2 separate regions of the Homo sapiens genome follow, and region 2 is linked to region 1. The links come from fine-mapping of genetic effects on gene expression. Tissue or cell type: whole blood. Region 1 holds a variant in brackets; the other region holds the start of a gene. All regions are shown on one strand. Distances are from middle to middle. Region 1 overlaps ATIC (5-aminoimidazole-4-carboxamide ribonucleotide formyltransferase/IMP cyclohydrolase). Region 2 holds the start of ATIC (5-aminoimidazole-4-carboxamide ribonucleotide formyltransferase/IMP cyclohydrolase).

Evidence for each region. PIP is the estimated chance that this variant, and not a neighbour inherited with it, causes the effect.
Region 2: it holds the start of ATIC, and the variant in region 1 is fine-mapped to the expression of ATIC in whole blood (TOPMed, PIP above 0.99).

What each region holds. Positions count from the first base shown.
Region 1 is chr2:215,334,477-215,347,323 of GRCh38, forward strand. ATIC (5-aminoimidazole-4-carboxamide ribonucleotide formyltransferase/IMP cyclohydrolase) reads left to right here. Exons shown (of 16, transcript NM_004044.7): 10 at 443-528; 11 at 1,559-1,648; 12 at 4,303-4,431; 13 at 10,303-10,395; 14 at 12,283-12,465. Among named protein-coding and RNA genes, the nearest start is that of ATIC, 29 kb to the left of the region's middle. The variant G/A (reference allele first, on the strand shown) is at 8,026.
Region 2 is chr2:215,305,853-215,318,699 of GRCh38, forward strand. It overlaps ATIC (5-aminoimidazole-4-carboxamide ribonucleotide formyltransferase/IMP cyclohydrolase), which reads left to right and starts at 6,207. Exons shown (of 16, transcript NM_004044.7): 1 at 6,207-6,309; 2 at 6,646-6,772; 3 at 12,305-12,381. The coding sequence starts at 6,291. LOC124907975 (a long non-coding RNA gene) reads right to left here and starts at 6,120. Exons shown (of 2, transcript XR_007088075.1): 1 at 4,827-6,120. RefSeq lists an enhancer at 5,911-6,561 and silencers at 6,092-6,171, 6,182-6,551.

The sequences.
Region 1 (12,847 bases):
TGATTTATGGCTCTTCTAACTTTACTACATTTGGTTAGAGTCATGTTTTATCAGAGACATTTACTTGTTGAATTTAATAACCCATGAATATCCCTTTAGTATTTCTGAAAGTTCTTGAGAAACTATTACCATAGTTTATCATCTACAGCAGTGGTCAGCAACTTCAGCTGAATCCAGCCTGCCACCCTGTTTTTGTGAATATAGTATATATAAATTGGTCCTTCACAGAAAAAGTTTTCTGAGTGTCACTCTAGAGGGTAAAATTAAAGAATACTTTCTTACTGGTTACTTCAGTTAAATGACTTATTGATCTGTTAAAATCTTATGTAAACAGTAAGATTAGCTTTAGAGTAATGAATTTTATATGACAGTGGAGAATTTTATTACTTTTTCTGTATCAGGATACTTTGTGATAAATACCTCATTTTAATTTTATTTACAGGGGCTGATAGGATGTCTTCATTTGGTGATTTTGTTGCATTGTCCGATGTTTGTGATGTACCAACTGCAAAAATTATTTCCAGAGAAGTTAGTGGACATTCATGTATCTTAATCTGTGTGTTGAATAAAGCTTTATTTGTTCATAATGTTAATTGAAACCATAACCTATAATATTTATATTTATAATATCTTTTAATTAGCTAAGTTTATCATTTAATGTTCATATTTTAAATAGAACATTAATCTTAAATTGTTAATTTTGAAATGTAGTGAATTATTGTTTCAGATGGATATTTGGCTGTTATGATGTTTTTTACTTATATATTTATTTTAAATTCTTTGTTGTCTTCATGCCAAAGTTACTGTTTCTGAAGAGCAGAAGTTGTAATTTTAGGTGGTGATGCGATATAATCCATCTTACTGCATAGTGGGTAAAAAACAGAAACTACATTAATAAACTTACCCCATCAGTTGAATACCAAACAGGTATTCCAGACAGGTGGGGGTACTGTTGGTAGTAGGAAGACAGGAAGAAAAGAGAAAAAGATTAAATAGCTCAGAAAGGGGAAAAAAATAAGCAGAGGTGAAGGCTGAAGGAGCATGTGGCTTGGCACTATTTTGTTGCTTTAGGATTCTTTCCATGGCCACTGCCATCCCTGGGTTACAGGTTACAGGAGGGCTGTGACATTTGTATCTTTCGTCATGTCAAATCTCTGATTTAATCTGGTCTTGCTGTTAAGGAAAACGCCTTGCCGGAAGAGGTCATTTAACCATGTACTAGGAGAGTCAGGACTAGAATGTGCTCTTGCTCATTCAAAACACTCCCTGAAGAAATATTTCCTCCTGAGGTACATGTGTTAAGAGCAAATCAGTCATATTTTCTTAGTTTAAACTGAAACGAACAAAAACTTGGAGAGGACAGAAAGTTAGGATCTGCTATACAGAAAGCTGTATTCTAATAGATTTCTCTTTTCAAGTATAGCGTTAGCATTGTTTGTTGGAGGCAGAAACCAGAATATGCTGCCACATTATTTAAGACTGATAATTGCTGCTAGATTTTTTTAAGAGGTGTTCTCTGATTTTTAAAAATAGAAATTAAAATTTAATATTTTTGCAGGTATCTGATGGTATAATTGCCCCAGGATATGAAGAAGAAGCCTTGACAATACTTTCCAAAAAGAAAAATGGAAACTATTGTGTCCTTCAGGTGAGTGCAATTCATGTTTGAAGCGGTAATTTGCTCTTTTATTCTGTGTCTCTTTCTCCCTTGTTTACTCTTTCCTTTATACTCATACCCTTCTAGTTTATCCTTATTATAGTTTATTTTCCCCAATCCTGCATTTAAAAAAATACTATTAACTTGGGGTTTTGAGATGAGAGTAGCTTTCTTACCCTCAATTTTAACTTTTTGCTGGTTGTGATGGCTCATGCCTATAATTTCAGCCACTTGAGAGGCTGATGTGGGAGGATGGCTTGAGGCCAAGAATTGGAGGCTGTATTGTGGTACTATGATGCCTGTGAATAACGACTGCACTCCAGCCTTGGCAGTGTAGTAAGACCATGTCTCTAAAATACTAATAATAGTAACAATATTTAATGGAAAGTCTCTCCATCCTTCTGTTACCTTTTGAAAAGATAACTATTTTAAATTTCTTGCTTATCTTTCCTGAAATAGTCTATGTATTCAGCAAATATTTGCATGTGCATTTCTTTTTCTATTTTCCTATTGACACAAGTGCACCCTGCTTCACCTTCTTGGAAGTTTGTCCTGTATCTGTGTATTTTAACTTACCTAGACAGTCACCAATCTTTAGCTACTACAAATACCCCTGCAGTGAATAACCTAGAAAAGTCCTGAGAGTGAAATTAAGGCTTAATAACAAGCTCTATGTATATTGGTAATCTTAATTGATACTGCCCCTTTTAGATGTTGTAGGCAAATTCATTGTCCTAACTGAAATATATAAGGATGCCTGTTTCCCAACACTTTTGTCAGCATTGTGGTTTTATACTTTTAAAAAGTCTCTGCAGTTAGAAAATGGCATCTCAATGTAGTTTTAACATTGTGTGTGGTATGAGCATCTTTTCATGTTTGAATGTTTTTATTCCTTTCTATGAACTGTCTTTCCATATTCTTTGATGATTTTTCTACTAAGTTGTTGTTGGCTTTTTTTTTTTTTTTAACTGATTTTTATGAGCTCTTCTGTATTGGGAAAAGTAGCTCATGGTCTAAGATTATGCATTGATAAAGCAAAGAGTTATTTCAATTTAAAGTAAAAATTCCTAATGCTACTTTTCATAGTATTGATATCAGAACTCTGTGGAATCCTAATTCCTTACAAGGAAAGTTATTAAGTATATTCTTTTGATTGTAAGATACCAATAATTTTATAGTTCACCATAGATTCCATGTCAGCTATTTAAGGAAAGAAGAGAATACCACATTAAAGTTAATACTTATTTTTTTTTAGCCACTTGACAGTCTGTTGCCCAGGCTAGAGTGCAGTGGTGTGATCTTGGCTCACTGCAACCTCTGCCTCCTGAGTTCAAGCGATTTTCCTGCCTCACCCTCCCAAGTACCTGGGACTACAGGCATGTACTACCAGGCCTGGCTGAGTTTTGTATTTTTAGTAGAGACAGGGTTTCACCATGTTGGCCAGGCTGGTCTCAAACTCCTGACCTCAAGGGATCTGCCCGCCTCGGCCTCCCAAAGTGTTGGGATTACAGGCGTGAGCCACCGCGCCTGGCCCCCAGTTTCTTAATCAAGTTTTTTTTTTGTTGTTGTTGTTAAGAGTGTTATGTACTTAACAACCATTAGCATTTTCTTGTAGCATCATGGAAAATATTTTCCAAAACCTGAGTCATTTTCTTGATCTCTTTAACACCTGATAGTTGGAGAGTGTCAAAGGAATATCAGGACTTCATTGGTATTTTACTTATTTGAGAATTTGGCTTAGTTTGCACATTGGACGCATGATTATAAGCATGAGACAACTTATCCCTCTACCTGACTAATGATAAGTTTCTCCTAGCATCAGTTAATAGGAGAGCATATCAATTTTAGAAATTTTATAGTGCATAATACAAAGGAACATTTTAGAATTCAAGAAAATGTAGATTAAACAGAACTAATATTTACGGGGTCTTGCTTATAAATTATATGTCAGGGCTTTCTAAATCAAAGATCATCCAAAGCATAAAGAAGAAATAGTGTCAAGTTTAAAAAAATATCCAGGGAGAGAGTAGTGTTACACGTATTGTTCCACACACCTTAATGTTCTTTCGGCTCAAAATTTGGGAGAGGAAGATGGCAGTAAATGATACAAATTCCTTCCAAATAGCAAAGACACAGATTACAAATCCTGTTTTCTCACTTTTAGCTTTCAATTCCTGGGTTAGCTGGGTATTTTGTAACAGATTTTTAGAAAGGAAAATTAGAATTTAATTTTTGTGCCATTGCTTATTTAATTAGCACATCTGTTTTATCTGCTGACCTTCCAAAAGAACCATATAGGTAGTAACTTAACCAAAAATACACTCACTGGAATCATTGTTTTTTAACATGTTGTATATAGGTTGTAAAATCTATAAAATACTATTGGGTAGTAAAATCTATAAAAGACTTTGGAGAAAAATATTAGCGCCTGGCTGTTGTATCATACCAGAATGTTGAATTGTATCATACCAGAATGATTTAACACATCATTTGTTGTGTGAGAAAAATTAGAAAATTAGAAAACTGTAAAAAATTAGAAACATGCATATAACTTTACTTACAATGAAATCTTTTGTATATAAATTAAATGAAAAATTTGAGGGAAGTGGAGAGATTAACTTTAACTTTTAAAATTTGTATTTTAGATGGACCAATCTTACAAACCAGATGAAAATGAAGTTCGAACTCTCTTTGGTCTTCATTTAAGCCAGAAGAGAAATAATGGTGTCGTCGACAAGTCATTATTTAGCAATGTTGTTACCAAAAATAAAGATGTAAGTTGGGAAGTATCTGAACTGACTGCTAGTAACTTCCATTGGTCTGTTTTCAATACTTAATGAGCTTTACATTTATTAAGGTCTGGATTTGGAACTGGTCTGTATGCACACGGCTAGCTAGCTTATCTTTGAGTTGTCACATAAGCTTTGGAGTTTAAGAAATGAATCAAAGGCCATGTTAGAAGCTTCTGTGCATATGTACACACTAGAGATAAGTAGCTTTAATTGTGTATAAATGGGATCATGTCTTCCATAATCTGACTCCTGTAACTTGGCTTTTTTCCATGTGCTAGGCTACAAATGTGTTTTTATATCAATACATATAGATGCTGGGTGCAGTAGCTGACATTTGTAATCCCAACACTTTGGTAGGCCAAGGGGCAGCTCTCTTGAGGTCAGGAGTTTAAGACCAGCCTGACCATGTAGTGAAACCTTGTCTCTAGAAAAAGTACAAAAATTAGCCTGGCGTGGTAGCTGCGCCTGTAGGTCCAGCTACTCGAGAGGCTGAGGTGAGAGGATTGCATGAGTCTGGGAGATCAAGGCTGCAGTGAGCCGTGTTTGTGCCACTGCACTCCTCTCTGGGTGACAGAACAAGATCCTATCTCGAAAATAAATGCATATTCATATCTTTATCTGAAAGTCCATGTGGCAGTCAGTCCATGTGTAGATGTACTACGATGGATATTTATTGTTCTTATTTTTACCCTGATTGATTGATTTATTTTTTTATTTTATTTTTTCTGAGACAGAGTCTTGCTCTGTCACCCAGGCTGGAGTGCAGTGGTGCGATCTCGGGTCACTGCAAGCTCCGCCTCCCGGGTTCACGCCATTCTCCTGCTTCAGCCTCCCAAGTAGCTGGGACTACAGGCGCCCGCCACAACGCCTGGCTAATTTTTTTTGTATTTTTAGTAGAGACGGTGTTTCACTGTGTTAGCCAGGATGGTCTCGATCTCCTAACCTCGTGATCTGCCCACCTCAGCCTCCCAAAGTGCTGGGGTTACAGGCGTGAGCCACCATGCCCAGCCTTTATTATTTTTTTTAAGAGACTTTTGAATGTTTTTATCCCTTTGAAGCTCGCTCTGTTTGAATGTTTTTATTCCTTTGAAGCTTGCTCTGTTGCCCAGGCTGGAGTGCAGTGGTGCGATCATAGCTCACTGCAACGTGGATCTTCTGATGGATATTTAGATTGCTTACATTTTCAGTGCTATGATCAATGTTTTTATATAGACAAGTTTTTGGGCTTGTGCTCTTTGTTACCTTGTAGTAAGGACACGTTCCTAGGATAATAATGGTGATTTTTGTGTTTTGGATATATTATCTCATTTAACACTTAGGTCACTCTATGGGGGTGACTACCATCGTGTCAATTGTGAAGATCACAAAATTGTACCATAAAGGACAATTAAGAAATTTGACCGGAGTTACACAATAAAGAATGGACAAGCTGACATTTATTTTTTGGAGTATCTTAATTGGGCCTTCAGTTTGAAGGATGTTTGTCCTAGGTCTAAAGTAGGCTGTGCTTGTTGTTCAGTACTTTGCAGGAATCATTCCATTGCTTTCTGGTCTGTCTGGCTGATAGCCTGGAATTTTTTATTGAGTGCTAGGCATTGGGTATGAAAAAACTGTAGCGATATTTTGAGGGCTGGATGGTGTTATTTTTCTCTCCAGAGTTGACTTGTCCTTCTTTTGGGCAGATAAGGTGTAGGAGGTATCTTCATTCTGTCAGGAATTGTTGAGCTTCCTAAAGGCTAAATAGGAATTTAGCCTTCAGTCTTTGTGAGGACTGGTCTGTTCATGGTTCATTCCTGCTCCTGAATCCCTAGGTATCTACTGCTGTACGCTGAACTCGGCTTTTGTCCCTTAGTCCTCTAAGACTGCCAAAAGTTGTGCTCAGCCAATTTACCTTTAGTTTATTGCATGCAACTTGGAAAATGCCTTGAGGAGAAAAGCATAGACTGTCAGGCCCATTTCTTACTGCTTCCATTTTCTCTGGGATCTTTGTCTGTTAGCACTTGCTGTCTGTCCGCTCTGCCCAGCATTTCTGTTTGTTACTAAAAGAGGATTGGTCTCTTAAGCTATTTGCTGTAACAGAAGGAGATGAGGGGCTGCAGCTTGCTCCCAGGTCTGAATCCTGAGGCCTTTTCAGTAGAATTGCTGGAAATAAGCCTTAAAATCTTTATCCAGAGAGTTCTGTCTGTTGATAAGCATACGACGATTAACATATCTTTTTTGTTTGATTTAATGGATATTCTTTCATTTCTATCTTTGACAATTAATGGTGTCCTGAAGTAAAGAAACATGTAGGCATTATACATAGAAATATCTTTCAGCCCTTTGGAATCCACTCTGGTTGGTTCATGTACTTTGAAAAATACTGAATGGATATTGACCTAGATTCCATGGTACCATGTTGAGAATTGTGCCTAGCTACTGAGAGTCTTTTTTCTAAGGTTTGTAGATATTGGATTCATTAATAATTTAGTGATCTTGATAGGTTTTGTGCCTCTGGATATTTTTTATAAGAGTGGTAGGTATGATCTTAATCGTTTATCTAAACTCTTTCCTTGCTTCATATGAATTCTTAGTAGAAATTTGGAAACTTAAGGATGAGAGAATGATAGCTTTGTTCTCCTTTCTGTTTTACCCGTCTTTTTAAGTGGATTTTTGTTAACATTCCAGCCTCAGAATTATTAGGTCTGGAACCATTTCAGTCCTGAGAGAGCCAGACAGGTGGATGGAATGTTTATTAATACTGAACATGTTTGAATTATTTCCTCTTCTCCCATTTTTCTTGAATAGTGCTTTAATTGTGTTAACTATTTGTAGCATGTTTCTAAGACTGGATTCCCTTACTCCCAGTCCACTGGCATTTCTCGTATGCCTTGATCCCAACCCAGGATGCCAAGTGTATTAGTTTTTATCACGCTGCTATGAAGAAATTCCTGAGACTGGGCAATTTATAAAGAAAAGAGGTTTAATTGACTCACAGTTCCACACGGTTGGGGAGGCCTCAGGAATCTTATAATCATGGCAGAAGGCACCTCTTCAGAGGGCGGCAGGAGAGGGAATGAGTGCAAGCGAGAGAAATGCCAGACGCTTACTGTCAGATCTCATGAGACTCATTCATTGTCATGAGAACTACATGGGGGAAACTGCCCCCATGATCCAGTTACCTCCACCTAGTCCTGCCTGTTGACACATGGGGATTATTATAATTCAGGGTGAGATTTAGGTGGGGACACAGCCAAACCGTATCACCAAGATTATCTTTGAAGGTCTAGACATCTATGAAGCTGGCTTTTGCTACTAAGTTTTCTGGGAACCAGAGGAATCAGATTTATAGTTGATGACTCAAATAGCAGATAAAGATAAAAGATATATAACATTAATAATACCTTAGAGTAATAAATTCTTAAGAAATCCTAATAGCTTTTTTTAAATTAAACTTTTTAATTTTGAGATAAAAGTTGTAGATTCATATACAGTTGTAAGAGTTCCCATGTAACCGTTACCCTATTTCTCCTAATGCTAGCATTTGTCACACTACAGTACAGTTCCACAACCATGCCATTGACATTGATAACAGTT[G/A]AAGACACAGGGCATTTCCAACACTGCAGTGATCCCTCATGTTCTTCTGTAGCCGGGCTCACTTGATATGGCTTCCACCCTCTCCTTACCCTTGGGCAACCACAAATCTGTTTTTCCTTTCTATAATTTTCATTCATCGTGCATTCATGTACAGTTTTTGTGTGTTTGTGTGAGCATAAGGTTTTTGTCTTTTGGGGAAACAGGGTCCAACTCTGTTGTCCAGGCTGGAGTGCAATGGCTCGGTCTTGGCTCACTGCAATCTCCGCCTCCCGGGTTCAAGCGATTCTCCTGCCTCAGCCTCCCAGGGAGCTGGGATTACAGGCATGCGGCACCACACCTGGCTAATCTTTGTATTTTCAGTAGAGACGGGGTTTCACCATGTTGGTCAGGCTGGTCTTGAACTCCTGACTCAGGTGATCTACCCGCCTGGGATTACAGGCATGAGCCACTGTGCCCAGCCTAAACGTAAGTTTTTATTTCTCTTTGATAAATGCCCAGGGTTGTTAACTGCTTTGTGGTATGGTAGTTGCATGTTTAGTTTACTAAGAAACTGCTGAATTGTTTTCCAGAGTGGCTTGTACCATTTTGTATTCCCACCAGCAATGGATGAGTGATCCAATGTCTCTGCATCCTTACTAGCTTTTGGTATTGCTACTTTTTTTTTTTTTTTAAAGACATGGGATAGTTGTGTAGCAATCTCTCACTGATTTTAATTTGCATAATAGCTCATGATGTTGAACATTTTTTTGTGTACTTATTTGCTACATGTGTATCCTTTTTGGTGAAAATGTCTGTCTTTTGCCCATTTTCTAATTAAATTTTTGATTGTTACTGAGTTTTTTTGTTTTGTTTTGAGATGAAGTCTCGCTCTGTCACCTAGACTGGAGTGCAGTGGCATGATCTTGTCTCACTGCAGCCTCCACCACCCGGGTTCAAGTGGTTCTCCTGTCTCAGCTTCCCAAGTAGCTGGGATTACAGGAATGCGCCACCACACCTGGCAAATTTTTATATTTTTAGTAGAGATGGGGTTCACCATGTTGGTCAGGCTGGCCTGGAACTTCTGACCTCAGGTGGTCCACCCGCCTTGGCCTCCCAAAGTGCTAGGATTACAGGCATGTGCCACTGCGCCTGTCCTGTTACAGAGTTTTTAAAGTTTTTTTATGTTTTAGGTGCTAGTTTGTTGTTGGATATGAGGTTTGTTAATAATTTTCTCCTAGTTCGTAGCTTGTCTTTTCATCCTCTTTAATGAGGAATCTTTTACAGAGGAAAAGTTCTTAATTTTACTGAAGTCAAATTTATCAACTTATCTGTTGGCTGTAGCAAATATCCTCTGTCCATTTAGCATACAGACGTGGACTATCATCCTTCTTTTCCATTTGTATTCATGCCTGATACTAAAGATAGTGATATTTTTGGGCGTTATTCTTGTTGTTCTATTTGGACTGGTAATTCCTAATGGTTTTTGAACAGTTTCAACTTAAGTTATTCTAAACAAAAGAGAAAATGATCGTAATTTGATTTTTCCAAAGTCTTGGCTGTCTGTGTGCATCATAACGATTTGTGATGTCTATGAAACAATTCTCCGCATTGGTTCTGAACGTAAATTTTACCATGTCTCCAGATATTTAAAAGTACTCTGGTCAAGAAAATATTGTTTGTCAGTTTTGGAATGGATATGGTAGTTCTTACCTCATGTGATATAAAAAGGCTTAATCCACAATTGCTACAAAATAACATGAGTTTGTGTCTATGGATGCATTGTGCTAAGTTCCACCCCAAATGTGTTAAATATTTAAGTAAATCATGGTAGTGTGTAGGAGAACAGTTAATTTCCCTCTGTCATTTGAGTGGTATAACTATGTTGTAGGTCTTTTACATTAAATAGAACTAAGAAACTTAAAGTTGGCCAGGTGTGGTGGCTCACACCTGTTGTAATCCTGGCACTCTGGGAGGCTGAGGCACGTAGATGACTTGAGCTCAGGAGTTCGAGACCAGCCTGGCCAACATGGTGAAACCCCATCTCTACTAAAAATACAAAAATTAGCCAGGCATGGTGGTGCATGCGCCTGTAATTGAAGTGTGAGAATCTCTTGCACCCGGGAGGTGGAGGTTACAGTGAGCCGAGATTGTGCCGTTGGAGATTGTCCCATTGTGCCTGGGAGACAGAGTGAGACTCTGACTCAAAAAAACCACAAAAAATAATATTTAAAAAAAGAAGCTTAAAGTTAAATGAGTTTAAAAGGCCCCATGCAATTTACCATTGTGTATGTGTTTCAGTTGCCAGAGTCTGCCCTCCGAGACCTCATCGTAGCCACCATTGCTGTCAAGTACACTCAGTCTAACTCTGTGTGCTACGCCAAGAACGGGCAGGTAAGTGGGCTGTTGGACTCGCCTTCGGGGGACTGTTGTTTTACGAAATGATATTTAAACATCCGTCTGCCTTAGATATTGGACAGCTTGAAAGGGAATATTTGCCAAATGTTTGTCTTTTGTGTTTGTCAGTGTTTCCTCAGTACCCTGGTGGGCTGTTAAAACTAATGATGATCAGAAAATATCTTTGGAACCAGGTACTCAAAGTAGTTGTGCTGCTTCTTGCCTTGAATAGGTTGGCACATTTTGGATTAGTGAGACTCTAATAGCTGTTACAAAACTGGATTATTTCCTTTCCTTTTCCCCCATTGGTATTATTTCCAGGGAAGAGGAGGTAAGTTACGGTACTGCCACCCACCAGCCTATATTTTTGCAGCCTGCAGGGTATTTTCACATTATTTCTTATGTTGTCTTATCAAGAATCTGCTGAGTAGAAAGACTGCTAGACTAGGAGTTAACTTCATCTTTAAAAAGTTAGGTTCATTGAGGCATAATTTGTATACAGTAGAATTCACCTTTTTAAAGTACAGTTTGACCAGTTTTCACAAATTTCACAGTATGTGACCGCTGCCACAATTAAATACCAAACATTTCTCACTGTGTGACGTTAAGCAAGATATTACACTTCTTTCCTAGTGTCCCGAGCCTCAGAATACAAGATGGAGCTGGTTCATCTCTGAGGTCTCTGCTAGCCTTTTCTTCACCTGGTGTCCTGAGCTTATCTCTTGGCATTTGTTAAATTATTTGGCCCACAAGTGACAGGGAGGTGGGTGGATATGAATTAGCCTATGGCCTGGAAGACCCCAGATTGCCAGTCTCTGTAGTAACAAACTCCTGGGAGATTGTGTCTACTGGTGTCAGGTTCTAAGAAGTTCTGTAAGTCCATGTAGAATGAGTGCTTCATTCCTGATGTTGAGGAGGAGGCGGCTGCCCAGGTATTTGTGGTCTCTTTTATTCTCTTGTAGCTGTGGGCAGGGTTGCCAGCAGCTGTGCTCAGAAAGAGATGGACTGTTGGGCAGACAGCTTAGGGGCTGTTCATTATAGGAACTAAAACCAGAAAACACACCTGTGCATTTAAGTCCTTGTTGCTTAGAATTCAACCCATAGAAATAGAGGAAAGAAGGAAGAACATTTGTACCTGGCGGAATTGTTTCTACTTTTAGCTACCCATGTCAGATCCTTATCTCAATTTCTGAGAGTTGATATTTTAACTGTAATTTATACACTGGGGCAAACAAAAGACTTTCAAGTAACCATAGTTATTTTTGTGGTCATTAGTTTTATTTATTTATTTATTTATTTTTTATAGAGACAGGGTCTTGCTCTGTTGCCCAGGCCAGAGTACAGTGACATGATCATAGCTCATTGTAGCCTTCGACTCCTGGCCTCAAGCGGTCCTACCACTTCAGCCTCCTGAGTAGCTGGGACTGCAGGTGTGCGCCACTACCCCTAGCTATTTTTTAATTCTTATTTTTTGTAGAGATGAGATGTTGCCATCTTGCCCAGGCTGGTCTCCTGAGCTCAAGCAATCCTTCTGTCCTAACCTCACAAAGTGCTGGGATTACAGGCATGAGCCAGTGCACCCAGCATTGGTCATTTATTTTAACTTTTTTTTTTTTTTGACCTCAAACCATCAATTTTATTGAATTGTAGATTATTAATAGTCATATGTCACATATCACTGAAGAGGTATAAATAGTAGTTATAAACAAACCTCTTACTCCACCCCTTTTAATGACTTAAAAATTATTTATATTTCTCTTATTTTGGCCTGATATGTTCTTCCACAAAACTAATAAATAGGTTTTGGAGAATGTGCACAAAAGATCCTTTTGAGAAGAAAGTGTCTTTGGAAGAGGTGTTCACTTTAATGTCTGTGTTCCTCAGGTTATCGGCATTGGAGCAGGACAGCAGTCTCGTATACACTGCACTCGCCTTGCAGGAGATAAGGCAAACTATTGGTGGCTTAGACACCATCCACAAGTGCTTTCGATGAAGTTTAAAACAGGAGTGAAGAGAGCAGAAATCTCCAATGCCATCGATCAATATGTGACTGGAACCATTGGCGAGGTGAAAGACTTGGCATTGGGTTCTCGGCTGTGTTAATATTCAGTTCAACCCTTTATGTGTAACAGATTTTAACTTCATCACCACACAGAGAAAAAGATACTTTCATTGAAATTCTATGTTGTCTAAAATTGATCATTGAAACTTCTTACACATTTCTCATGTTCTTCTGTCTCATGTAACTTTCTTCATTGTTTTTGACCCCTTTCTGAAACCACAGTCCTCTGTCTTTTTAAATTGCAGCCTTGGTGTAGGTTTGTATATTTGTACTTCCCCTGTTGATTATAAGCTTTTGATGACAAGGACTGCTTTTCACCTACGTCGAGGTGCCTGCCACCACGTCATGCATGGTGCTTGCTGTCCGATGGGTCTGTATTCAACATTA
Region 2 (12,847 bases), 29 kb before region 1:
CTTCTCCTAGTGAAGTTCCCTCTGTTGCTACCATACCACCCTTCCTGACATTCCTTAGACACTACAGCCACACTCCCTATGCACGGCCTTTGCACTTGTTCCCACTGCCTGGAACTTTCTCCTTCAAATACCCTGTGGCTTGTTATCCCCCACCCAGCCCTCCAGTCCTCACTCAAATGTACCTTGTCAGTAAGAAATTCTCTGCCAGGCCTTCCTAAAGGTGCAGCTACCTCTGCCCTGTCCCTCTTCTCTGCTTTATTTTATCCAAAAGGATAAAGTGTCTCTTCACCTGTGGTCCACAGTGGCTCATGCCTGTAATACCAGTACTTTTGGAGGCCGAGATGGGTAGATCGCTTGAGGTCAGGAATTCAAGACCAGCCTGGCCAACATGGTGAAACCCTGTCTCTACTAAAAATACAAAAATTAGCCGGGCGTGGTGGCATGCACCTGTAATCCCAGCTACTCGGCAGGAGAATTGCTTGAACCCAGGAGGCAGAGGTTGCAGTGAGCCCAGATCGCGTCACTGCACTCCAGCCTAGGTGACAGAGCAAGACTCAGTCTCAAAAAACCAAAAAACATTAAATGCCTTCCTGAATGAATTTTCTTTCTTTAGCTTTTTTTGTCGCTCGGGTTATCTACTAGACCTAATTAAGCAAGCTTATCTTCTTCCAGGCTTCAACTACTACTTGAATTTCATTAATTTTCCACGTTTATTTATCTTTAACCTCACTTTTATTCCTGAATTTCATTTGTATTTCCAACAATTTGCTGTATGATTTTAACTGTGTGCACCAATTACCTAGACTTTAAAATCAATATTTAGAAACTCAAACTTATTTACCCAACCACTCACACTGACCTTAAATTAAAATAAACACATGCCACAACTGTTCTTTCTCTTACATATATTTTTATATTTTGGGTGTTGCCTCACCAGCTACTCATATGACGAAGCTAGAAATGATGGAATCATCCCTAGTTTTTTGTGTCTAATATTTCCTATATGTCACTGATCCCTGCATGCTGCTAATTTTACCTATTTTGAATCGTCTCACATAGATAACCTCTTTTCCACCTTCTTATGTGTGAGTGGATGCAAAACCTTCCTAACCAGTTTCTCTACTTCCTACTATTCCAATTCATTCTTTGTATTATTGTCAGCTTTATATCTCCAAACATCTCCAGGACTTTCAAGAAAAATGTTTGAATTTCATACTAGGTCATAAATTAGCTTAATGTTCTGAACTACAGTAGAGAGGAATTTTATACCAAGCTCCTGGGAATCCCTTTATATGATAAACTACATCCACTTGAGTGGACAAACCCTTGGAGCAAGTCAGCCCAAGATGATGCAGCTTTATTAATCGTTAGAGTCCAATAGGAGATCCAAGACTTGGAAGGGAGATGGAGGTTTTTCAAAGAAAGTGATGAGCTTGGCCAGGCGCGGTGACTCACACCTGTAATCCCAGCACTTTGGGAGGCCGAAATGTGCGAATCACAAGGTCAGGAGATCAAGACCATCCTGGCTAACATGGTGAAACCCTGTCTCTACTAAAAATACAAAAAAAATTAGCCGGATGTGGTGGCGGGTGCCTGTAGTCCCAGCTACTTGGGAGGCTGAGGCAGGAGAATGGCGTGAACCCAGGAGGCGGAGCTTGCAGTGAGCCAAGATTGCTTCACTGCACTCCAGCCTGGGTGACAGAGTGAGAGCGAGACTCCGTCTCAAAAAAAAAAAAAAAAAAAGTGATGAATTTACACAAGAAACAAACAACATAGGGGCAAAATCAGATTATAACACCTTCAAAGAACTGAAACAATTCATGTACATTAAATATTTTAAGGTATATTACTATGATTTTAGGGTCTTCAAGCTTCTCTTTGGAGGTATGTGAAGTAAGAAGAAATGAAAATGTAATCATTATAGTGTATACACGCCCTTTCTGTCTTTCTGAAACAATAATCCTGCGATAAACCATTGGTAAAAGATGCATTCTCATCTTTATGAGAACATCTCCCTTTTCTAAGACACTAGCTTGCTGGTGACTAGATCTTTGAAGACATACCTTGGTGCCCAGAAAGATACCTGATTAGCCAGACCAAGGGAACCAAGAAGATTACACCTCTATTTTACTCTTCTTAGTCTCTTTGCAGTTTGTACTTTCAGTAGACTACCTGTACTTAATTCGCTTCTTAAAATATGATGAGGACTGCAGAAAAAATATTATGTCCATATTACAGGTAAAGCAACAAAGGTCCCCAAAAGATGGAGTGACTTGGCCAGGATCACAAAGCTAGTAAAAAATTCATTTACTCTTTTTGTCATTAACATATTAAGTCCTATCAAGTCGGGATGCTAAAACTATGGGAGAATTAATCAGAGTAAATATCTTTATTTTTATTTTTTGAGACAGAGTCTCGCTCTATAGTGCAGGCTTGAGTGCAGTGGCACTATCTTGGCTCACTGCAACCTCTACCTCCTGGTTCAAGCGATTCTCCCACCTCAGCCTTTCGAGTAGCTGGGATTACAGGCACCGCCACCATGCCTGGCTAATTTTTTGTATTTTTTTAGTAGAGACGGTGTTTCACTATGTTGTCTAGGCTGGTCTTGAACTCCTGAGCTCAGGCAATCCACCCGCCTTGACCTCCCAAAGTGTTAGGATTACAGACGTGAGCCACTGTACCCAACTTACTTTTTGTATTTTTAGTAGAGACGGGGTTTCACCTGTTGGCCAGGCTGGTCTCAAACTCCTAACCTCAAGTGATCCACCTGCTTCAGCTTGCCCAAGTGCTGGGATTACAGACGTGAGCCACCACTCCTAGCCTGTTATTTTTTTATTTTATTTTATTTAAGAGACAGGGTCTTGCTCTGTAGCCCAGGCCGAAATGCAGCCGTGCAACCTTAGCTCACTGTAACCTCGAACTCCCACCTCAGCCTCTCAAGTAGTTAGGACTGCAGGCATGCACTATGTTGCCCAGGTGGGTCTCAAACTCCTGGCCTCAAGTGATTCTCCTACCTCTGCCTCCCAAAGCACTGGGATTACAGGCATGAGACACTACACCAGGCCCCAGAGTAAACATCTGTAAATGGAAGAGTCTGTAATGAAAGAGGCTCTACAAAATCAGTTTAATGCCGTGTTTTCTCTATTATTATTATTTATTTATTTAATTTTTTCTTCTTTTTTTTTTTTTTTTGAGATGGAGTCTCGCTGTCGCCCAGACTGGAGTGCAGTGGCCCGATCTCGGCTTACTGCAGGCTCCGCCCCCCGGGGTTCATGCCATTCTCCTGCCTCAGCCTCCCAAATAGCTGGGACTACAGGCGCCCGCCACCTCACCTGGCTAATTTTTTGTATTTTTAGTAGAGATGGGGTTTCATTGTGTTAACCAGGATGGTCTCGATCTCTTGACCTCGTGATCTGCCCGCCTTGGCCTCCCAAAGTGCTGGGATTACAGGCGTGAGCCACCGCGCCCAGCCTATTTATTTAATTTTTTGAGACACAGAGTCTCGCTCTGTCGCCCAGGTTGGAGTGCAGTGGCGCAATCTCGGTCACCGCAAGCTCCGCCTCCCGGGTTCACACCATTCTCCTGCCTCAGCCTCCCGAGTAGCTGGGACCACAGGCGCCCACCACCACGCCCGGCTAATTTTTTGTATTTTTAGTACAGACAGGGTTTCACTGTGTTAGCCAGGATGGTCATGATCTCCTGACCTCGTGATCCGCCCGCCTCCACCTCCCAAAGTGCTGGGATTACAAGTGTGAGCCACCGCACCCGGCCTCTATTAATATTTTTTAGTTATACTTCATGTGTCTACATTTTCATTCCATCATGAGCTCCTTGAGGACAGTGCTTAGGTGATATTTATCTGTCTTCTGACACTGAGTTTCTGCCATCCAAGCAGAAAAGGCTCAATAAAAATGTATTGAATCGAATAAATATTTGTAATTCACATGACAGACAAATGCATAATGCCGAAGCAACTGTTTATTTCCCCTTATCAATAAATGTCAGCATTGTTTTCTCCTTTCCTTGCTTTCGATTTCCTGTAAAAACCTGATGGTGACTGGCCAAGGAAATATCCTTTTTAAATTCAAATTTGGCAAACACACTGAAGACATGCGATAATCTTAATATATTCCTCGTAGGAATGTGAGAAGTGTTCAGAGCAAAGGGCTAACATATTTAGAGGTCAAAAAATTGATTCCAGGCTGGACGCGGTGGCTCACGCCTGCAATCCCAGCCCTTTGGGAGGCCAAGGCAGGTGGATCACCTGAGGTCAGGAGTTCGAGACCAGCGTGGCCAACATGGCGAAACCCCATCTCTACTAAAAATACAAAAATTAGCCAGGCATGGTGGCACGCGCCTGTAGTGCCAGATACTCGGGAGGCTGAGGCAGGAGAATCGCTTGAACCTGGGAGGCAGAGGTTGCAGTGAGCCGAGATCGCGCTACTGCACTCCAGTGTGGGTGACAGAGCGAGAGTGTGGGTGACAGAGCGAGACTCTGTCTCAAAAAAAAAAAAAAAAATTGATTCTAGTCAATAGGTATTTATTTTGGGGAGTAAAGAGATGGGAAGAATTAGAGAAAGGAAGAGGAAAAACAAAAATAAATAGCATGCAGATAATGAGAAAATAGACTCATTTTTACAGCTGTGAGCTCAGACTAAAAGATAAACAATGCTATTACTTTGGAATATAATTCTAATAACACAAAAAAGACTCATAGACCACAATATGTATTTATTTTGTGGCAAAGGTGTCATTTTTAGAAAGAAACAAATGTGTTCAATTTTGCTTTCCCTGTTTTTAATGAATTAAGAAAGGTCTTCTCTTACCTTCTTTTGACTGTCATCATTCCTCTCATCCAGGAATATTTACAGGTTTGCAAGAAGACACCATCTTTAAGTAGTTTTTAGGCACTTTTACAATACTGACTAAATTGTATAAAATAGTATTATAAATTAATATTTAAATTATAATTTTATGACGTGAAAATCAACAACGAATGTCAATTTCACTTCGTTTTGACTGTCATCTGTGGCCTCTGGAGTCCCTCACTTAAATCATTGGTCCTTGGTTTTATTTTTTAAGCCTATTAAAAAGGAGGATGGGGCCGGGCACGGTGGCTCACACCTGTAATCCCAGCACTTTGGGAGGCTGAGGTGGACAGATCATTTGAGGTCAGGAGTTGAAGACCGGCCTGGCCAACACCGTGAAACCCCATCTCTACTAAATATACAAAAAAAAAAAAAAAAAAGTACAACAACAACAAAAAATTAGACGGGTGTGGAGGCAGAGGCAGGAGAATTTCTTGAACCTGGGAGGCAGAGGTTGCAGTGAGCTGAGATGGTGCCACTGCTCTCCAGTCTGGGAGACAGAGCGAGACCCTGTCTCAAAACAAACAAGCAAACAAGCAAGCAAGCAAACAAACAAAAAACAAGTTGGGCATGGTGGCTCACCCCTGTAATCCCAGCACTTTGGGAAGCCGAGGCAGGCGGATCACCTGAGGTCAGGAGTTTGAGACCAGCTTGGCCAACATGGCGAAACCCCATGTCTACTAAAAATACAAAAATTAGCCGGGCATCGTGGCGCCTGCCTATAATTCCAGCTACTCGGGAGGCTGAGGCAGGATAAACTCTTGAACCCGGGATGTGGAGGTTGCAGGTTGCACGTGACATAGCCGAGATCGCGCCATTGCACTCCAGCCTGGGCAACAAAAGCGAAACTCCATCTCAAAAAAAAAAAAAAAAAACAAAAAAAACAAAAAAACCCAGAAAAACAAAAAAACAACAAACAAAAAGGGAGGATGGTAGATAACTGTCCAGATACTTTCCAGCTTTGCCGCTATATGAACTATTCCTTTTGTTTAGTTTTCAGCATGGGAGCTTCTGGCACTTTTACGTACTTTCCAGCTTCTGGGGACCGGCTGCCTAGAATAACAGGCATTTGCCCCAGAGGCCGTGGAGTGGCCTCACTTTGGGGTCGTGGGCAGATCGCTGGCTCCCACGCCTGGACTTCGGGATCGCAGGCAGGATCCCTTCCAGCCCAAGCACTCCGCCCAGGCGCGCCAGGCAGAGCCCCACCCCATCCCGCCGTTCCCTTCAGCCCCGGGGCGCGGATCTTGCATCTGAAACTGAGCAGAGCAGGGCGCCGGGCAGGGCCGGCGGGCCACGTGATAAGCCCGGAAACAGCTCCGCCCCCTCGCTTCCTGAGCCGCCACATCCCGGCAGCCCTCCTACCTGCGCACGTGGTGCCGCCGCTGCTGCCTCCCGCTCGCCCTGAACCCAGTGCCTGCAGCCATGGCTCCCGGCCAGCTCGGTGAGGCCCTAGCGGAGCGGCGCGGTCTGCGTCCTCGCCTGCGGCCCCCCACGCTCCCGCCTTGGCGGCGGCCGGCGGGACCCGGCACTGCAGGGGCGGCGCTGCGGGATTGAAAGCCAGCGTCCCCGCTCCCCGGCCGGGCCGCAGCCTGCGTGGGGCCCGCCTTAGAGCAGCTCGCGGGTGTAAGACCTGGGGAGGCCCGGACCAGGCCTGCGAACGCAGGGTCCAGGTGCTGGCCTTGCGATTCGAGAATCTCCTCCCCCAGACCCTCCCAAGGCCTTGCAGAACACAGTGCAATGTGCTGCGAATCATGAGAAAAAATGTCTTCTCTTTCAGCCTTATTTAGTGTCTCTGACAAAACCGGCCTTGTGGAATTTGCAAGAAACCTGACCGCTCTTGGTTTGAATCTGGTCGCTTCCGGAGGGACTGCAAAAGCTCTCAGGGATGCTGGTCTGGCAGTCAGGTAAGGCATAGCTAGTTCCATCAGAAAGGAGTGTGATCACATTAACCAGGAAGTATTGTATTCCAGGCACCAGCAGCAAAACGCCTTATTTACTCCTCCCAGTAGCGCTGTGAGGTTGGTGTAATACTTCCCCACTTTATGGGGAAAAAAAGTGAGGCTCAGAGAGATTTAGCAACTTTTAAGACCCTGGACGGCTGGGCTAGGTGGCTCACGCATGTAATCCCAGCACTTTGGGAGGCCGAGGTGGGCTGATCACTTACGGTCAAGAGTTCGAGACCAGCCTGGCCAACATGGTGAAACCCGTCTCTACTAAAAATACAAAAATTAGCCGGTATGGTGGCACACGCCTGTAATCCCAGCTACTGGGAAGGCTGAGGCAGGAGAATCGCTTGAACCTAGGAGGCGGAGGTTGTGGTGAGCCGAGATGGCACTACTGCACTCCATCCTGGGTGACAGAGAAAGACCCTGGACAACACACTGGACAGATTTAGCATCTTCTGCACAAGTTTAAACAGTTGAGTAAGGGAAAAGTAGGATTGGAACCCGTGCTGTTCCTGATTTTAGGACACTAGTCTTAGCCCCTTCCTTAAACAGATTAACTTAGGTGGGCCACTTGTTATGCAAGGAAAACTTCAGTTACTTTGACTGGTGATTTAATAAAACTCGACATCATGAAGATTCCAATTTACCTGCCTTCCCTTAGAATCTCTGGTAACCATATGAAGGTGCAAATCATTCATTCCCACGTTCACAAGCCCTTCATTAGCTGACTAGGCCATGGAAAGAAGGGACTTAGAAATGATTAACCAGGATGCCATTGCTGATGTCAAGGAGTGGCATTCTGGGAGGAGAGGGAGGAAGTCTACTGAAAGGTAGAAAAATGAAAAAAACTATAGGATAGCTATTTAATAAACGGCAGTGAGAGTTGGGAGGAACGAGATGACCACCCCTGAAACATATTTTAGAATGAAAGAGATGAAGGATATCTGTCTGCTTTTTGTTGCCATGTGGAAAATTTGCTTCTTGGTTTCTAGATCCATGTAGAGGTAGGTTATTACCTTTTCTTTGTGCAGTTCCCAGCTATGTGAGCAGTACACAGCTTCCCTAAGTTTAACAAGTTCAGATGGTAAGAATGCCTTACTTTATTAACAAATACATAACTGTATATTTTCGGATGTCTTTTTGCGTCTTGTCTCTGTGGTTTTCATGGGAAACCTGTGAGAATCGTGGCAGGCAAGTTGGCTCTTTGCTCATCAGCAACCGAATGAGAATTCAAAGTCCAGACCTGCGTGCTTTCCATTGGGCCAAGTTGGGTCCTCCTATGGTAATGGAACCTTCGTAAAGCAAAATCCTCATCTGTAGTCTCTTTTTTTTCCCCACCAAACTTTGTATTATGGAAACATTTCAGACACAATCAAAAGTAGAAAAGTATAATGATCCCTTGGGTCCTATATCTGTCACCCACTTTAGGTACTTATCAACTGATTAGTCTTGTTTCTGTACCTATACCCACTCCTCACTTATCTTCATTATGGTCATATCTTCTTTAAAAACTGGAAATGTAAATGTGTTTCTCTTCTATGAAAGGATAAGAAGTTCACCATGAGTGATTTATTTAGACCCCAGCACAGTAAAGTTCACTGAATGAAATGTAAACAACTTGGAGCAATTGTTTTTTCTTCAACAAAGGCCACATTCAGTTGCAGTGGTATTTTATTCAGTTGCAGTGGTATTTTACATATATAAACTCTTATAGTCCTTATAACAACTTTTTAGTTTAGGTAGTGTTATCCTCATTTTATAGGTGAGGAAATTAAGCACAACGTAGTTAAGTAACTCGCTCGAGATTACACAGCTAGTTAAGAGGCCAAGATTTTTTTTTTTTTTCTCTGAGATAGAGTTTCACTCTTGTTGCTCAGGCTGGAGTGCAATGGCACTGTCTCAGCTCACTGCAACCTCTGCCTCCCAGGTTCAAACGATTCTCCTGCCTCAGCCTCCCAAGTAGCTAGGATTACAGGCGCCCGCCACCACGCCTGGCTAATTTTTTTGTATTTTTGGTAGAGACAGAGTTTCACCATGTTGGCCAGGCTGATCTCGAACTCCTGACCTCAAGTGATCGCCCGCCTTGGCCTGCTGGGATTACAGGTGTGAGCCACCGCACCCGAGGCCAAGATTTTGTAGGGGTGGAAAGGTGTGATCCTTTGCTCTCCATCGTAAACGTCACGGCCAATATTTTTATAAGAGAAGACAGGTTATAATAAGAGAAAAGCATAACAAATTTATTTAACAAAGTTTTACATGACATGAGAGCCTTCAGAATGAAGACCCAAAGACAGAGGAAAAACCATCCATTTTTATGTTTAGGTTCAACAAAGAATGGACAGAAAGGTGGAAGTATGATTGGACAGCAAGGATATGGTGTATGCTAGTAGACTGAGGTGGAGAAAGCCAGGAAAGCCTGTCTGTCCAGATTCTTCTTGGCTTCTCTAAAATTCTTTCTCCACCCCCTAAGGATCTCCTGACCTACTAATGGGCAAGGAGATGAGAGGATTTCTTTACGTCCAGCTCCTAGACAGAAAGCCAGTGGAAAGTTAGAATCATAAGTTTAAATCTTATGACTGGCTTTGGGGAAAAAGAGTTTTAGTTTCTGTAAACTGCCCTGGGGAAGAGAAATTCTCATTTCTGTGACTTCAGGGAAGAATGAAGGGTGAGAGGCAAGAGGGCAGGAGAAAGCTATATATATATATTTTTTTAGAGGGTTTTACTCTGTCACCCAGGCTGGAGTGCAGTGGCACAATCATGGCTAATTGCAGCCTCGATCTCCCAGGCTGAGGCAATCCTTCCACCTCAGCCTCCTGAGTATCTGGGACTACAGCTGCACACCAGCATGCCCAACTAATTTTTGTATTTTTCATAGAGATGGTTTCACCATGTTGTCTGTCTGGTCTTGAACTCTAGGGCTTAAGCAATTTTGCCTGCCTTGGCCTCCCAAAGTGCTGGGATTACAAGTGTGATCCACCATGCCTGGACAAGGTCTTGGTTCTGGCTGGGCGCAGTGGCTCACCCCTGTAATCCCAGCACTTTGGGAGGCTGAGGCTGCTGGATCATCTGAGGTCAGGAGTTTGAGCCCAGCCTGGCCAACATGGTGCAACTCCATCTCTGCTAAAAATACAAAAAAGAATCAGCCGGGTGTGGTGGCGTGCACCTGTAATCCCAGCTACTCAGGAGGCTGAGGCAGGAGAATTGCTTGAACCCAGGAGGTGGAGGTTGCAGTGAGCCGAGATTCCACCACTACACTCCAGCCTGGATGACAGAGAGAAACACTGTCTCAAAAAAAAAAAAAAAGATCTTGGTTCTGAGGCTGCTTCTGAGCATATTTTTGGGTGTTGTTATCTGCAATAATTTTATCCCAGGAAGTTAACCATTACCTTGTCATGAGGTAAACTGATGGATTTTAATTAGTGAGTATACAGCAGTGAGCATACATAGAATTATTTCCCGAGACTACAGCCATTATGTATAAATTCTTCAGTTCAAAGGAGTAGCAAGCTTTTTAATTACCCCAAATGTTTAATTCTAGAAATAAATCCGCCTTCTCTAAGTTTTAAGTGACTGTCTTCATTTGGAGGAAATGGATTTTATTTCCTGAACCCCAGGAAAAGAAATTTTGAATTTGAAAACACTTATGTCACCAGTTTGTGGATGTTGGAACTGTGTGTGTCATTGGTCAAACACCAGTCATTTGCAAATGGCTCCCCTTAACAGGAGAATCTACCCAGGAAATTCCGTATCTTACTGGCAGAACTTGCTGCTTTAAAGTGTTTATTATAGTCTCAGCTACTTGGAGGATTACTTAATAAGCCCAGGAGTTCTAGGCTGCCATGGACTGTAATCTTGCCTGTGAATAATCACTGTACTCCAGGCTGGGCAACATAGTGAGATCCCATCTCAAAAACTATATATGTTGATTGTAGAAAATTCGAAAATATGGACAACTATAAAGAAGGTAGTAAAAATGGATTGTAATTCTTAACATGCTAGTATATTTTTCTTCAAGCATTTTTATAAGCATGTACTTTATTTCATAGCTTACACAGAAGATAGATGCAGTTTTGCTTCCTGCTTTATTTATTTTTATGTATTTATTTATTTTTTGAGACGGAGTTTTGCTGTTGTTGCCCAGGTTGAAATGCAGTGGCACAATCTTGGCTCACTGCAACCTCCGCCTCCCGGGTTCAAGCGATTCTCCTGCCTCAGCCTCCCAAGTAGCTGGGATTATAGGCATGCCCCACCATGCCTGGCTAATTTTGTATTTTTAGTAGAGGCGGGGTTTCACCATGTTGGTCAGGCTGGTCTGGAACTCCCTTACCTCAGGTGATCCATTCGCCTTGGCCTCCCAAAGTGCTGGGATTACAGGTGTGAGCCACCCCACCTGGCCCCTGCTTTATTTTTTCTTATATATTGTGGGCATTTTTACACACCATTACAACTTATAAAGTCTGCCAGAGTGTTCGTGGTTACGACTTTCTAGGGGTCTGCTTTGTGATATGGATTAATATTTACTGTCCTTCACTTGACCCTTTGTCACATTGTGTGATTATTTTTTCTAGTTTACTTTTTTTTCCCATGTAAAACTTTTTATTTAACATTTCTGTAATCAGAACTCTCAATCTTTTGTTTAAAACTTGGAAAGCATTCCTCACATATTTAATTTTGCTACATGCATGATTTTTTAAATGCTAAACCTTTGATTCATAAGGAATATATTTTTGTTTGGGTTTAACCCGTTATTCCAATAGCAACACCACTTTATTAAACAGTCTTTTATGTCTTCACTCACTTGATATGCCATCTTCATGTGTTGTTGTTGTTGTTTTTTGAGATGGAGTCTTGCTCTGTCGCCCAGGCTGGAGTGCAGTGGCATGATCTCGGCTCACTGCGACCTCCAACTCTTGGGTTCAAGTGATTCTCCTGCCTCAGCCTCCCCAGTAGCTGGGATTACAGGTGCCCGCCATCACGCTCGGCTAATTTTTTGTATTTTTTTAGTAGAGCTGGGGTTTCATCATGTTGGCCAGGCTGGTCTCAAACTCCCCTCCTCAGGTGATCCACCTGCCTCAGCCTTCCAAAGTGCTGGGTTTACAGCCATGAGCCACCGTGCCCGGCCAAGGATATTTTTAATGCTTTTTGTTACATACTGCCAAATTCTCAGTTGTATGTCTTAGTAATATTTAATGAGTATGGCTTATGATTCAGTTTCTAAATGCTCTGAAAATTATAAAACCAGTGCTGTAGTAGTTACCAATTATCCCTGAACATACACAACAGTTAGGAAATAAATTAAATAAACTTTTTTTCGGAAGTAAATAGAATTTTACTTAAGAAATAAAATATAGTGAAATACTTTAAAAAATCAGAATTTTCACGTTGAATTCAGGCTCAAAATCTCTTGAAATGAAAACAGTAGATGCTTTGAATAGTGAAAATTACAATTCAGCCACACCAGTAGTACCATTCTGTTTATCTGTTTTTCAGAGATGTCTCTGAGTTGACGGGATTTCCTGAAATGTTGGGGGGACGTGTGAAAACTTTGCATCCTGCAGTCCATGCTGGTAAGTGGTTGGTATCTTTAATGTAAAAACAGTCAGTGGTTTCCAGGAATATTTTAGTTGATAGCGTCCTAAAATAAAGGAAGAAAAAGGCTCAAGAGAAATTTACATATAAAGTTAATGTTATGAAGTTGCTGCCAGATTTCATAATACGTTAGAACTGGTTTAAAATCCAGCTTGTCTTACTACTTGATGAATTCAGATTGTTTTCCTCTGCTTGCTATTAGTCCTGACCTGATACCTAATTTAGAGTCTGGTGTTTCCTGCTCAAGTTGCTGAAGATATTTAGATTTCATCGTATGAAAATACTTTTAAAATAGTTCAAACTTAGAAGAAAGCATCACAGCGTAACTGACTTGCAAAGGAATTTTTTTTTTCAAAGTGCTTTACATTTGTTCGTTCACCTAAGAATGAATTGTATATAAACCGAAACGGCAAGAAACTGGTATCCTCCTAGTTTGTCAGTTGT